Linked DNA regions of Homo sapiens: region 1 is linked to region 2. The links come from fine-mapping of genetic effects on gene expression. Tissue or cell type: monocytes after Pam3CSK4. Region 2 holds a variant in brackets; the other region holds the start of a gene. All regions are shown on one strand. Distances are between the middles of the regions.

What was found. PIP is the estimated chance that this variant, and not a neighbour inherited with it, causes the effect.
Region 1: it holds the start of DNAJC6, and the variant in region 2 is fine-mapped to the expression of DNAJC6 in monocytes after Pam3CSK4 (Quach 2016, PIP 0.90).

What each region holds. Positions count from the first base shown.
Region 1 is chr1:65,306,375-65,314,479 of GRCh38, reverse strand. DNAJC6 (DnaJ heat shock protein family (Hsp40) member C6) reads right to left here and starts at 4,937. Exons shown (of 19, transcript NM_001256864.2): 1 at 4,542-4,937. The coding sequence starts at 4,734. It overlaps DNAJC6-AS1 (DNAJC6 antisense RNA 1), which reads left to right and starts at 5,246. Exons shown (of 3, transcript XR_007066155.1): 1 at 5,246-5,985; 2 at 7,895-8,047. LOC112268227 (a long non-coding RNA gene) reads right to left here and starts at 3,236. Exons shown (of 2, transcript XR_002958317.2): 1 at 1-3,236.
Region 2 is chr1:65,416,817-65,424,921 of GRCh38, reverse strand. It overlaps LEPR (leptin receptor), which reads right to left and starts at 4,254. Exons shown (of 20, transcript NM_002303.6): 1 at 4,182-4,254. It overlaps LEPROT (leptin receptor overlapping transcript), which reads right to left and starts at 4,254. Exons shown (of 4, transcript NM_017526.5): 1 at 4,182-4,254. The coding sequence starts at 4,197. RefSeq lists enhancers at 3,751-3,800, 3,874-4,407, 4,408-4,940 and silencers at 4,171-4,670, 4,691-4,760. The variant G/C (reference allele first, on the strand shown) is at 3,097.

The DNA.
Region 1 (8,105 bases), 110 kb after region 2:
TTATATAAATAAACTTTGCCTCCAACCTACAAGACCCTTCAATGGGCAGATATTCTTAAGAAAGGATTATTAGTACATATATGTTTATTATACTTCCATGAAGTATACAATTATCCAAACACGTATCTCATAATGTTGAAACCTGGTTCAAAATGTGGATGCTGTGTTTAAACACTAACTAAAATAGAATTTGTTAAAGGTAATTTTTGTTTCCAACCAGACTCACACTACATGGTATTTTAGCATTGTTCATTATCCTTATTCTTTTTTTTTAATATATACAATATTTTGTTTATTTATATATGTGAATTTCTATATATTTAAATATATAGAACAAAGCCTAAAAAGTGAGAATCAAAAGAGAAATCCTTACCTATCATTATACTTATTCTTTAAAAAGTATTAATATCTGTTTCCAGATTTTAATTGGACTACTCTTTTTCAGTTTGTCATTATGAACTTGGTAAATTAAGCCCAATATTGGAACACTTTAGCAGCTCAATATTGAAAGTTCTACTTTTGTGGTTCTACTTTCCCTGAAAAGTGGGGTGCACACAAGAGAAATAGGGGGTTTTCGGCATTGGGATAGTGCAGTGCCTTTGAGATATGACAGGATGACCTTTAAATGACAACCTTTTCTAGAGAATAATTTGAATGAAGAGAAAGTGAGCCAGGGAAGGCAGAGAGCTCTGGAAGTCACATCTGGCTAGGAGACTGCTCTGGTATCTACCACTTGAGAGGCTGTTGACTTAGAAAGCCATTACATTCCTCTGAACATGTACCCCTCTTTTATCTAAAAACAGGGGGGAAATCAAAGTAGATAAAAATGTTTCCATTTCAACAATCAGTTGATATTGTGTCTACCCAAAAGTTTAGTTCAATGGGGAAAAACTCAAACCTTTGAGTCAGAAGACCTAAGTCTGGCTGTCATTATCTATTCTACCTTTGATAGGTCTCCTACCACCTCTGAGAATAAGTTTCTTCATATGATAAATTGAAAGGGCAAGATACAAAGTAAAGAAAAACTGCAAATGTATTTTTATATTGTTTTCAGCCTCAACTAAAGCTCTGTGGTAAGAACAGCTCTTATGATTCCACTTTTATAAATGGGAACAGGCCAAGCATGGTGGTTCATGTCTGTAATCCGAGCACTTTGGGAGGGAGGCCGAGGTGGTCAGATCGCTTGAGCCCAGGAGTTTGAGACCAGCCTGGGCAACATGGCAAAAAACCCCATCTCTACAAAGAAAAAAAAAAAAAAAATTAGCCAGGCATGGTGGTTCATACCTGTAGTCCCAGCTACTCAAGAGGCTGAGGCAGGAGGGTCATTTGAGCCCAGGAGGTCCAGACTGCAGTGAGCCATGATCACACCACTGCACTCCAGCCTGGGCAATGGAGCAAGACCCTGTAATCACAGCACTTTGGGATGTCAAGGCGGGCAGATCACTTGAGACCAGGAGTCCGAGACCAGCCTGGCCAACATGGCAAGAGCCCGTCTCTACTAAAAATACAAAAATTAGCCGGGTGTGGTGGTGCACGCCTGTAATCCCAGCTACTTGAGGGGCTGAAACACAAGAATTGTCTGAACCCGGGAGGTGGAGGTTGCAATGAGCTGAGATCGCACCACTGCACTCCAGCCTGGGTGACAGAGCTATCTGTCTAGAAAAGAAAAGAAAAAGGTTACTAGGTTTTTCAGCGAGTAACAATAATGCAGAGGTTTGATCCCAAGTCTCCAAGCACAGACACATGCTGCTTCCCCAACCTATTTAATAAAATTCTGGGGAAATGAAATAAGAGAATTGTCCAAGTGTTCTATTATAAACAGTCTTACAAGTTTAAGGTATTATTAAGACTAAGCTTTAAATCATGTAGCGAGATGTCAACATATTTTTTCCACTCATTAATATTTCTATCAGAGCAAAAGTCCCATAAACCACTGATCCTATCCAGCATGTCACAGTACAATCAGTTGAATAAATGGGCAGATTACTGCCACTTTAGAAATGATCCATGAACTTAATTAGATATACTAAACAAATGGATATATTTACACTGCACAGGCCACACTTTGAGGATCTTAGAAGAAAGAACTATAATTAGGCAAGACATATAGTTGTACTAGTAAAAGAATCCTACTCTCAGAGTCCAATCCTTCATTCAAACCAAACAAATCATTCTCAGTTGAAAATATGCATCAAAATCATTGTAAGATACCCTGTACTTCTACAACAAAGCCACAATATTCCCCTAATAAAATATAGGAGTGAATGATGGATAAGGGGAGGAGAAAAGGAATCCCTGCAGCCTCTTCACACAACACCACTTTGATCAAGTTTAAGAATCAACTCCTGGCAATAGCACTTTAGAGATAACAATATTCTTAATGAAACACTTTCCCATCACAACAGATTATTAAAGCAATCCATTATTCTTCTCTCCACCTATTAAAAAAGTCTGATTTAGTGAAAAAGACAATCCTCAAAAATCCAGGACTTACCATAGGCTGCTCTGTGTTATAGTTACTGCCCCCACTGAGAGTCCCCTAGAGGCCAGAAGGATCTCATTCACTACTGTGTTCCCTCACAGTGCTTGGCACATAGCTGGGCTCAGAAAATGTATGTTGAACTTATTCTACAATGTAACATATTTCAAAAACCAATTTCAACTCTTAAAATAATAATCCCTATGAAAAAGGAAAACATATGTATTTCATATTTCTTTCATTTTCCTGAAGTGAGGCTCCTTCACACTCATTTGGAATATGTTTGTTTTCATTTCAATTGTTTACATGCTCACTACATGTAAACATTATTATGGTGGCATCATTCAGAGAACATGAATCTTTTTAAGATTTAAAGGAGATTACATCCAGTCAAAAGATGGATTACACTTTGATATATCACAGATTTGAAAAAACATACATTGAATAACCACATACAACATCAATAAAAAAGTCCTGCCTGGGCGCGGTGGCTCATGCCTGTAATCCCAGCACTTTGGGAGGCCGAGGCAGGCAGATCACCTGAGGTCAGGAGTTCAAGACCAGCCCGGCCAACATGGCAAAACCCCGTCTCTACTAAAAGTACAAAAATTAGCCGGGCATGGTGACAGGTGCCTGTAATCCCAGCTACTCAGGAGGCTGAGGCAGGAGAATCGCTTGAACCCGGGAAACGGAGTTTGCAGTCCGCCGAGTTCGCATCCCTGCACTCCAGCCCGGGCAACAGAGTGAGACTCCGCCTCAAAAAAAAAAAAAAAAAAAAAAAAAAACAGTCCTGAAACCATCAATCCCTTGGGGATCATTTTAGTTTTATTTAAAATGGTCTAAGAGAATGTCCCATCAATATCTTGGTTAACTTCAATAAGAGCTTCAATGAGTAGAATTTGTTTTCAGCCCAGGACATTTGAGCATCTGTGGACAATATTTCATCCCACTTTGGGACAAGGAAAATAGAAAATAATAGCCCAAGGACAGCCATTACACAATTAAAATAAACAAGCATTTGTTTGCAAAGCAGGGCATTTAAATTCAGTTTGATTTCATTACTGTTCAAACGACCCCATATGAATCTTTCCTCTGGAATCCTCAGTTGTCCAGTATTAAAGTTACCAGTGTAGAACCAACCACTGAGGACTTCAATTATAAATATCTCTGTAAACAATTCTCCGAACCTGGTTCCCTGCAGAAGTAAGCAAATAGCTATAATAATACTCCTAGTCCAACATGGATATATTAAATGACTGTTTTGCTATTGAAATCGCAAATGCCAACAGCAGTTCCAAGAGAGGACTCTAACTTGCCAAACCTTTTATAAAAGACAGTTGCAAGCCCCGATACAAAGTTTAGAGGAATTTCCTTGTCCCTACATGTAAAGGTTTATGAAATCTGTACACTCAAGCAAAAGGACAAACAAGATCAAAGCCAACACATGAAATAAATTTCATTGTGCAAACAGTAAAAGCTGTGTAAAAGAGCTCTAGATCCCAGGTTAAAAACTGCAGGAGAAAGGTAACATTAACCCTAGCAGACGGCTGAGTTAAGATGTGGCAGAGCTTTACAGAATTGCAAATAGCATCAGCATTGCAAGAATAACAATTGGAATAAATACCGTCTGCATGCTGCAAAAACAATCAACGCACATGCTCCTTCACCTCTCCCCCTCATCCAGCTGGGCAGTGAAAGCAGCTGCCTCTCCCAGCCCTCCTCCCAAGCCGTTCTTCGCCCCACCCGCTCCCCTCTCTTCTCCACCCCTCCCCTCCTCCTTCCCTCCCCCTCCCCGCCCCCAGCTGCCGTATTCAGCAGTCTAGAGAGATTAGGAGGAGCTCGCTACAGTCTCTGGGCCTCAGGACTGATCTAACGTTTCGTAGCTCCCTGGATGAGAGAAATTAGAGACTCGACACCCAGGTGGTATTAGAAGCCTTCGCCTCCAGCCCGGCTCTCTCGCAAACCGGGGCTGGGGGACCACGGGGGGGCCTCGGGCCGGGCGACTGGGAGGCTCCGGAGGCCGCGCGGGGCTCAGCGCTGCACTCCCCTCGGGCAGCGCTACCTGAGCTGTCCATGGTGCTGGCGCGGTCCGGAGGCTGTCGGGCGGGACTCCGCGCCGCTGCCCCGGCGTTCACTCTCTGCTTGCCGCCAACCCCGCCGCTTCCCGCACTTAAGTCCCCGTTACTGTCCACCAGCTGCAAAGATTCATAACCATCGTTGCTGGTCTTTTTCCGGTAGCTCCCGAGGAGGCTCATGGGCAAGCCCGGAGAAAAGAGAAAATAATCAACCTGGGAAGCGAAAAGGGAGATGGAAGGTGGAAAGGGCTGAAGAAGGAATTAAAAAAAAAAAAAAATTAAGTGCCCGACATGACGCAAAGAGGAGGGAAAAGAAGGAGCGGCCACCGGAGAGAAGCTTCGCCGGGCGAGGCGAAGCCGCCGCCCTGGGCTGAGCTCGGCTCGGGGCGCCGGGAGGAGGGAGGGAGGGAAGGAGACGCGGCCGGGCGGGGGCGCGCGTCCTCTGGGCCAACGCCGCGGAGCCGCCCGGCCCTGCCGAGCTCCGGGCCCCAGGCCAGCACCTCCTGGCTGAGGAGTGCCCGGAAGCAATCCTATAGGTGTCGCCGCGTCGCCCCGCCGCGCAGCAGGGCAGCGCCAAAGCCGCTGGCCCGCGGGGAGGGAAGGAAAGGGAGGTAGGAAGGGAGGGGAGGTTCGTGAGGAGGGGGGTTGAAGGGAAACGGGGCGGGGTGGTCGGGGGAGGGGACTACTACGACGTGGGTTGGGAGGGTGTGTTCGCACGCGTGTGACAGAGAAGAAAGGGGCGAGGTATCTCGGCCTGCGAAGCTTTGAGGACCAGGGGTCTTGTGGTAAAATCCAGACACACCCATTTCATGCAACTTAGCCTATTTTCACCGGAAGATTCCGCCAAAGCCACCAGGACGGTAACCGTCCTAGAGAACTGACTTGTAACTCAATTCAACAGAAAAAGAATGCATGTTAAGTGCCAGAATATATCTATGCTAGGATATAAAGGAAGAGCAATATTTTGCACATTCTCCAGAATAGGGATGATCCCTAAGGGAGATATCAAAGAGTTGGGTATTCTAATACTAGGAGGCAGCGTCCGTTCTGCCTAGAGAGCAGATGTGACTGTTTAGAACTCTTTGTTGAGCGAATAAACTGGGGAGAAGGGCAAGGTTAAGTCCGACGCATTTTCAGATCCGCCACCATTTACCTTAGGACCTGGAGAAAAGACTGTTTCAGTTAGCTAGCTTGAAGGCCTGCTTGGGAAGCAAGATAGACAAGGATTTTTTTTCCCCATCCTCTAGCCTCACGCCTTATTTTTCTTTCACAATTCTGGCCAAAGAAAGCAGTAACTCATAATCAGAAGAGAATTTATCATGAAGTTAATTAAGCTGTGTACCTAATTTTGTATCTGTCATCGTGTATTCTTAAAAGAAGACTCCGACATTGTATAAGTTCTGGATCTGAACAAAACCTGGATAAACTCTGGTAAGTCTTAAAATGTAATTATCGAATGTTTATTTTCACCTAAAATAATAAGATTTCAGAAGGATTGCTCATTCTCATCATCTTAGGTCAAGATCAAGTAAGTCTTGGTTAAAAATTATCATTTTCTCTACTAAAACTTGGAGGGACTAAGTGAGGCGCCCGTCAAGAGTCATTTGACAGAGTTTCCTCACCAAAACAGGAAAAAAGTACGTGCATGTAAAATGTACTTGAGCCCATACACAAAGCCAGCTTTGCTTTCTTCTCATCTTACATGGTTTTCTCTTGCTGTCCTTATATCAATCACCTAAGGACACAAAATCAAACAATAGCATCTAAGAGACTTCAGTCCAGATGATTTGGGTCTCAGAAAGTTTCCGGGAAGCTCTAGCTCTACACAGTTCTACATAAAATAAATTGGACTAAGAGACATTTTCCTGTACAAGGATCACCCAAACACAGATTCTTGTAGGAAGAGCATCAACCAGAAGAAGTCCAAAGAAATGTTTTCTAAATCCTTCCAGTCCTTCTGGGGAAACCTAAACTTCCTGGCCAGTTGCTTTCCCAACTGCATTCTTTGATGAGGTATGGTGTGACCTGAATTGCAAATCAGAGTTAATGCTCATTTATAACAAGATCAAACAATCTGAATGGTGGCAGGAAAAACTGCAATAAAAATTTTAAAACAAATTTTTATACTTTCAATTTTCCAAATCTGTCAGATTGAATTATTTTAGTTACTTGACTAAAGTAATAATTCTGTGAAGTCTAGTAAATCTTTTCCCATAACATCTTAAATAATCTTTCTCTGTACTTTTTCTTTTAATTCATTACAGACACACAGGGACAGTAAATACCTAGTGTTCATCATGTGCCCTGACAAATGCTGGACTATAATCATTGGATTAATAGAATTTAGAACCAGCCTCAGTGACAGACTGAGACCCTGTCTCAAAAAATAAATAAATAAATACAGGATCATTTTTGAAAAGTGAAAATTATTATTTTCAAAAAGAGCACTTTCAGTTATTTTTGCTCAACTTGCAGACATATTGCTGAAAGAAATTATAGATGAGACATATGCCTTTGTATTTTTCAATATCTATCTCTGGAGTTTGCAAGTGTAAAGAAAAATCTGAATGGGCTATAAGAATTTTATCTTTATACTTAATATAAATAAAGTCAATCAGGATAACTATTAATAATCCTATAAAATTGAAGATATAAGAAGCATATTAAGGCAGGAAAATACAATAACTAGGTTAATTTACAACAGCCTAAAAACTAGGGCTTGGGCCTAAATTTGGATATGCACCAATTTCAACATTAAAATTTTCTTTACTGTGCTAAAGATCAAATTCATATACTTATCAATGAATATCTCACTGTTCTACTCTATAAAACAAGCATAATATGAGTACCATCATTATATAGAAGAATTAGATTAGTACCTAACATATATATATATATATATATATAGAGAGAGAGAGAGAGAGAGAGAGAGAGAGAGAGAGAGAGAGAGAGAAACAGATTGAGAGAGAGAGTAGTACTTAACAATTGTTCTCTATTACCATTATTGGTCTGTCTTGGGTGCAGCTTTAAGCTCAGCGCCTGGCAGTCTTAGTTTTTCAAATGGGAAAAGCTCAATAAAGGCTAAATATTATTTTTTCCAGGGATATCCTAATGGAAAATTGTCTTTGTAACTTTGAATGAGAATTTGGGCTTAAGGGAGGTGGCACTGGTCAAACACAAGGTGAACATTTACAGCCTAACTCTTGGTTTTCCAAACTCAAGACTACTTCATAACTTATCTCAAAAATACTACATCATACATGAGACAACGGCAAAGGATAAGATGCCCTCTTCTGGGGACAGCAATCATTCCCTTTGTCTTTTCTCTTGCTGCCTTCAGGTGCTTTATTAACTTGATGAAGATTAGTGACACTGAGGAATACTGAGGAACCAGGCTCTATTCCACCCCATCCCCTTCATACACACCTCATTCCAAATGCTATCCTGTCACAGCAGATGCCACATCACTTTTGGGGTGGGCTAAGAGATCAAGGTATGTATGCCATGACCTATGTAGGATTTTGATCTGTGATTTTCATTTCCAGAGAATA
Region 2 (8,105 bases):
CGGCTCCATCCCTCTCACCGTGAGATGCTATCAGGAGGTGGACCTTTGGGAGATAATTAGGTTCAGATGAGGTCATGAGGGTGGGGTCTCCACGATGGGATGAGTGCCCTTATAAGAAGAGAGAAAGTAGAGCACACACTCTCTCTGTGTTTCTCTCCCTCTGTTCTCCAATGTGAGAGCAGAAAGCAGGCCTGCAAACCAGGAAGCTGGCTCTCACCAGACACCAGATCTGACTGCACCACAATTTTGGACTTCCCAGTCTTCAGAACTGTGGAAACTAAATGTTTGTTGTTTAAGCCACCCAGTCTAAAATATATTTCTTATAGTAGCCCAAACTGATTAAGACAATGACCCATGTCTGCCACCTTGAAATCATAAAGTATACAAAGGTCTCAAGTAATTCCAGTACCTAACCCCTATCCAATGGATGAATTCCCTCTGTATTTGTCACCAGAGGGCAGCCAGTTGGTCCACATAACTCCAGTGAAGGAAAACTCACTACCTCCCAAGGCAAGTCATTTAATTCCAACAGCTTCTAAATGTTGAAAGCCCTCCTTCTTTAAATTATATCCAGAACTGCCTCCCTGTAATATATACCTTTGATCATTTTGCCTCCCCAAACCACAGTACTGCAAGTATTTGAAGATTGTTTTCATGTCTTTGTAGGAAACAATTCCCAACTAGTGTGCACTGAATAAAATATGTATTCCCTGTATCTATTGGACACTAGTCTCTGCGGGAGTAGGAACGTATTTGCCCTTGTTGTGCTGCTGAGTGAGAAACAGAGTATCAAGGTTGTTACAAAATCTTGAGCTCTGAGTCACAAACATGAGTCAAATCTTAACTCTGCCACCATCTGGTCTTATGACTTTGGGTAGAAGCTAATCCTCTGAACCTGATTTCTCACCTGTAAAATGGAAATAATGGTGCCACCTTATTGAGCTTATGGGAATTAAATGAGATAATCTATGTAAAGTGCTTGGCAAAAGGAGGTAGCCAAATAAATGCTGACTGACTCAGGTATCTACTCATTTTAGCAATGTTCTTTGATAAAGGTAGAAATCAAAAGCATAGGAGACTATCTTATCCAAATTTTCTTCTGAAAAAAGTCCATAATACTCATAATTAGTATTAAACTAATTAATTAAGCCAATGAACATTTTTGATTGCTTCCTTTTACTTGAGAGAAGATTTAGAGAGACTCTTTAATAGGAAGGTGCCAAAGTGCTTTTTAAAAAACATCTGAAAGTATACACATGTTAAGGGACAAAGAAACACTGTCAATTTTAACATATCTTTTTACATTTCCACTCTTTAATGGAAAATGCCCATGTGTGGATGGAAAGCAAATACCACATACTATTTCATTCAGATGATCTTTTCCCAGCAGGCTTTGCTCCTCTCCTCTGTGCCTGACCATCGGCAGTACCCCCTCCTCCATGAGGCCTGTCAAAGCTAGGTACTGCAGACCTCTTCCTTCTGTTCTGATACCAGTTTCTCAACGTTCACAACCATCTTTCTGTTTGATTCTTTTTGGTCTTTTTTTTCCTCTTTTTTCAGGAATCACATCCTCTGAATCTCTTAAAGTTGGAGTTGACCAAAAATCCAACCCCATCTCTCTTTTCACTCCACGCACTCCTGCTGAAAACTTATGTTCAACCCAAAGCTCCTACTACCACAAGGGCCCGGCCGCAACTGATGCTCCAGCCCAGAGTAGGTCCTAAAGAACTAGGCCTGTACTTCCACCTCCAGTCTGGACTTCTCTGCCTTGACCGCCAACAAGAACCTCAAATTCAACATGTGTAACACGTGTAAAACCAAACCACTATCCCTACACTTTAAAGGTCCTATCTTAGAGGACTGACACCATGATTGCATTCCACCTTCCAATGAATCAGTAGGTCAAGGTGACTCAATCTCCCAGACTTCTTAAACTCTCTGCTACAGCCCTGGTGCAGGCCCTTAACCTCTTATTCCTGCCTCTGTGACTCTTCCAATCCATCCTCTACACAGCAGACAGTGATCTTTCAACTATATATATCACCGCTGCCATCCCTTTGCGGTTGCTTCCACAGCCTACAAGTTGTTCTGGCACGGAGGCTCACCATCGCCTGACTCACTCCTAACTGCCTGTCCAGCCAGCTTCAACCCTCACCACTAAGTTCTGGTCTTACTAATGTAGCTTAAGTACCTGAAGAGAAGAAGGCATGTTGTTTCATAAGCCCTGCGCCATGTCACGTGCTGTCCTCCCCACTTGGGATATACTCCACCTTCACTCCATGCCTTGCCAAGGGAAGCCACATTGATCCCTTCAGATTCAGTTCAAGCATCGCCTCTTCTGTGAAAACAGTCCTTTCTCTGGAGCAGGGGAATCAATCCCACCTGCATCAGCTTCCTAGGGCTGCCGTTACAAAGTACCACAAACTGGATGGCTGAGAACAACAGAAATTTATCTTCTGACAGTTCTGGAGGCTGGACTTCTGAAATCAAGGTGTCAGCAGCGCCACCACACTCCCTCTGAAGGCTGTAGGGAAGCACCCTTCCTTGCCTCTTCCTAACACTCAGTGGTTGCCAGCATGGTTGCCAACAATCTTTGGTGCTCCTGACTTTGTAGCTGCATCACTCCAATTTCTGTCTCCGTCTTCCCATGGTATTCTCCCTGTATGTCTCTATGTCTAAATTCCCCTCTTCTTATAAGGACACCAGTCATTGGATTAGGGCCCACCTTAAACCAGTTATCATTTTAATTTGATTATATCTGCAAAGATACTACTTCCAAATAAGATCACATTCACAGGTACCAGGGAATTAGAGCTTGAACACATCTTTTTGGAGGACAAAATCCAACCCACCATCTGTTCTCCCACCGCATCTGAGCCCAACATAAACACTGACATAGTAATATAATTATTTCCAGCTCTGTCACCCACCAATAACTTCTCATTTATCTTTGTATCCTAAGTCTCTGGCATACAGTAGTTCCTCAATAAAAGTTGAACAATCTGTAAAATGCTTCCTTCCCTTAGTCCGTTTCCATTTCAGACTTCCTTTTTTTTCACTACATCACAATTTTCTAACACATTCACACATAAACGT[G/C]ATCATGATTTGGTAGTTTCTGATCATGTGTAGTACTGAGACACTACTTTTCATCTGTTTTCGGCATTGGCTTCAAATGGATATATAACACAGTCGACACTCTCCAAGTAAACCATGTTTACTAAACTGATATTAAGTATAAAAGTCAGCCAGAAATAACGATAAAATGTCTGCTGCTAACAGCTCACATACTCGGATAAATTCATAGTGAACAGAGGCGTACTCGTATATATACTATCTACATGTTTATAGCAGATGTTAACTGGGGATATCTTTGGGTGCAAATTTCAAGGATGATATAAAAGCCAATATAAAAACAAGTCATGCTACTCTATTCGACAGATTAGAAATGGAATGTTTTCCTACCAAAATACAGGAAGCCTTGCAAAAAACCTTTTCCGTCTCGCATTGCTCTGAAGCCATACAGATAAGGGACGCGGTGTTTTTACCAACTGCCCCATGCAAAAAACACATACTACACACACACTGGTTTCTTCTCTGTCCATAAACAGAGAAAACACCGAAGAAAGCAGTATTAAAATTACACGTAATCTACTCTCCACGACTGCGAGAAACACCGTCTTTCTGGGTGCTTTCCATTGACACCCGCCCGCGGTCAACTCTGCCCAGTTGGAAAAATCATTAGGAAAAAGAGGATTAAGTTTCCCAATGCTAAGAACGCTGGAGACAAAGGGTCCTTTGTGGCAAATAGGAAACTGCGGAGGGGCAGAAAACCAGAAGAAAGGCGTTAGGGTGGCGTCAAGAAGTGGAAACCTTGTTTAAAAACTCAGGAGAGGTGGAGGGCGCCGCTCTCGCCGAGGGCTCAGGCTGGGGAGGGGTCTGGTGCCGCCACTGGAGAGCAGGAAGGCCAGCGGCCTTGCAAAAAGGGCCAAGGCTCCCCCGAAACGCCGCTCCACCCACACCCCAAGGGACGAAGGGAGCGGTCGATCGCCTCCCGAACCGGAGAGGCGGGAAGGGTGGTGAGGCCGTTCCCCAACGGCGCGCGGAAGGCGCAGCCCCAGGCTTGACCGGAACGGAGGTGGCAACCCCACCACACGACAAGCGAGCCGGGGACCGCGATGTACCTTTAACGCCCGCCATGTCTCCCGAACTGGGGCCGCGGCTGCTTCCGGCTTCCTGCCACGGCCCGGGCAGCCTGCCCAAGCCAGACCGGGAGTCGCCCCGCGGATCCCGAGCCCGCCCCGGCCACGCAGAGCCCCGCCCCCGCCGGTGCAGAACTCCGACCTTAGCTCGCAAACGCGGCGCCTGCTGCTCCAGACCCCGCCCCCACCACTCACAACCCCGCCCCCGCCGGTGCAGAACCCCGCCCCCAGCTCGCAGAGGCCGCGCCTGATAGTTCAGACCCGGCCTCGCTACTCAGAGCCCCGCCCCTGACAGTACAGAGCTCCTCCCCTACCTCGCGGAGGCAGCGCCTGCGGCTCCAGACCTCGCTACCGCTACTCGAAGCCCCGCCCCAGACAATGCAGAGCTCCTCCCCTAGCTCGCGGAGGCCTCCCCTGCTGGTCCCGCCCCAGCCCTCACCGGCCCAGAATTCCGCCCCCAACTCTCAGAGGCCGTCCCTGCTGGTCCCGACCCCGCCCCCGCCACCCAGAACTCCGCTCCTGCCAGTCTAGAACTCCGCCCCCAGCTCGCAGAGTCCATCTCCAGCCCTAAGGTCCCACCTGGTCCCACAGAGCTTTCCCAGAGTAACCCCAACCCAGTGCCCTGGGCCCTCCTCCTAGATCCTGAGCCCTCCAAGTAATCCTCAAGCCCGTTCAATGTGGGTTGGGACCTTGGCTCCGCCCCGACCGCGGGCCCAGAGTCTCTCCCCGGCCTCTCAGAACGCAGTGCACGCAGCGGGGGATCCTCCCTGAGCCTTCCTGAGAACGGAGATGTAGAAAGTGGGGAGAGGCAGGAGAGGGAAGGAGGGGAAAAGTTGCAATCGATGGGAGAGGGACACCGACTCACTAACCAGTGTTATGTTCCCTGAGCTCCCAAGTGCGTGCTAGTGTGCGAGTGTGTGCCTGTCTGCCTTCACATGACTGTGGCAGAGGAGAGGCGGGGTACCAGAGGACAGGCCCCTTAGGAAACACTCCTCATTAAGAACTTGATATTTGCATAGGTTTGCTTTGCTTAATAGCAACGCTTTACTGAAACTAGCGGGGTTTTTCTTTACTCCCTGGTTTATTTATAGAGACGAAGACCATATAAGCTTTTGTGTCCGAAGCTTTCATGAACCTTAAAAAAAAAAATAAAAAAAAAAAGCTATTATTTTTGTGCCTTGGGGCCTCAAAGTTTGCAGGTAACCAAGGCCAGTTTTTAGATCTCTGAGAGCCATTGTGTACTTATCTTACAGGAATGGAGAGTTCTGTTTTGGCAAAAGCAATCTAGAAGATCATTGAAACAGTCTGGTCCAAATGCTTCAACTTACATTTAAGGAAAGAGGTGCAGAAAGGATAGGACTTGCCTGTCACACAGCTCTTTGGAGGAGGTTGGATTCTGGGCCACTTCCCCTCATTCTAGCTGAGATCCACTCTACCTGATGGTGCCGTCCCTCTTCTCTTGCTTTTTCTCCGTTTTCAAAAGGACTGAAAGACAAAGGAATCTGTGGAAACCTAGCTTCCCCTGGCTACCTGAGAAGTATAAATTCTCACCACCATCATGTTTCATGATCCTTGCTCAGTTTACTTTTTCAAAATTGCACATTGAGCATGTTACTGTTTCAAGAAATGTCTATTTGTTGATTCAGTGGAGTATTTTTCTAGCTGTCAGTTTATTTTTCTAGCTCCTCTCATTTCTCCTCATAGACGGATGGCACACTCACTGAAAACAGCATTGTAATACCTGACTCACTGCTGATGCTTGGAGATCCAATACTACAGTACAGCACTTTTTACTTTGGAGCCTTCAATCTACTCAAGAGCATTGGCAGTGTATGCCACTTTGGTTTAAGGATTATTTTGAGCTGAAGGCAATTAGGAAGAAGCAAATAGGTACACGGTACTAGAAAAGCACTCTGCCCTCCCTCTATTTGCCAAAAAGCAGGATATAAGTTTACGAAGGTGTACCTCCTTCCTGCTCTACCAGGAAAGACAAAGATTAATCACCAGAGACAATTTTAGACCCCTGTCAGCCTGGAGACAACACAAGAAAAATCTACATGATAAACCTTAGTATTTGGCCTTCATCTGCAACTAGTCTCCCATATATTTGTTTTCCGACAATTTGCTGCCCCTAGAGACTCAAGATCCTTTATCTTGTCATTTCTTTAAAAATTTATTGTTCCTTGGCTAATATGCTGTATAAACCCAAGTTCTAACCAAATCTTTGAGTTGCTTATCTCTGAGTATTCCCATGTTACCTATATGAACAACGCACGTGTTGATAAACTTGCTTTACTTTTGTTCATCTGTCTTTGGCCAGTCTAATGCACAAGGACCCAGCCGGAGAACCTAAGATAGGTAGAGAAAAAGATTCTTCCTCCCCTACAAGAGCTTGTTTCCCTATCATATTATTTCTAATACCTATTAGAGCACTCAAGGGAACCTGCGTATCAGACAAGCCCTGGAAGTCTGTGGTTTTTAGCTTTCTTCGTGTAGTGCTAAGCTACTCTCATGGGGAAGATATTCTATGGGGTTAAATTTCCCTCATTCCCCCTTCCATTTCCAACCACCCATTCTGTCTCCAGAGAGCCTAAATAGGGTTTGCGGGAGCCTTCCACATCAGCCTGACTCCAGTCCCACAGAAGATAAGTGATTTTAGAGAAAACTGACAACACATCAGAAGCAGAGTTTGGTTTGAGCACCCTAGGCTCAGGAGTAAGATATTGGAAGGTGGTATGAAAGAAAAAGTTGAGGTGTTTGCCCCAGGGTAATGTCTGGAATTTAAAAAATGCTGGGACAGTGTTTGTCTTGAACAAGTTTTCTGCCCACGCCAGCTGTCCTTTCCAGGTTACCAATCACCTTAAAGAGAAAGTTAGCTATTTTGCCATAGGCTTTAACCATCTGAAAAAAATCTGCTTTTCTTTTGCCTGATGTTGCACTGAAAAAAACTGTTCTTCTACTTACTCCTTCCACATTTTCTCAAAAATAAGAGTCATCAAAAACAGAAAGTAAAACCCTAAAAACCAAATCCTTATCCCCAACTTGCCATTGATATGTTACTTGTAAGATCTGTGACCTCTGTCATGCTGCCTAGGACTACAGTGGACTTACTGGGATGAATTTTAATATTCTCTCCTTGCATTCAATAGTCTCGCATGATAAGCTAGGTTTTATTGCCTCTATCTTACAGATAGGAAAACAAGCTCCCAGTAACCAGTGAATAGGGAAGCTGAGATCAAGTCCCAAACTGTTCAGCTCTAAAGTCAGATGGTCAGCACTTGTACTATTCCCCACAGTAGATCTTATGCACCAAGAAGCAAGAATTCTTGTAGTAATTAGAAATAACAGTAACCTCTTATGCTTCACAGGGCATCAAATCCATTCACTGTCTTAATTTTCTCCAGCATATCTATTAGCATCTTGCATACAGTATACACAAAATGTTGGCTGAATTAACAAATATTAATAAGTTTACCATACACAGTATCATCTCTCCCTATCCTCAGAAAAAAAAAAATATATAGCCTCAAGCTCCAGCTCTGGGTAAATTTCTCCATGCTTTAGCTTCCTGAGGTAAGATTTACAAAAACCTGTCTCAGAATCTTTGGGGGAATTAAGTGAGAAAAAAATATATATAAAACATATATATATATATATGGTAACACCTAGGGCAGTGCACACAAGATAAATGCCAGGATGTTATATCTACACTGGGGTAGGCTTGCAAGTCAGTGCATAAGTTAAATGCAAGAATGATGCAACACTAATTGAAATCCGTAAATGTTGGTTTTCCTTCCTAATGCTCAATCACTACTTCTTTTTACATAGCTATTCCCTTTACAGAAACTACAATGCAAACCTCTTTGCCATTTTATGTAGACAGATCTCTGTAAACCCAAGGAGATA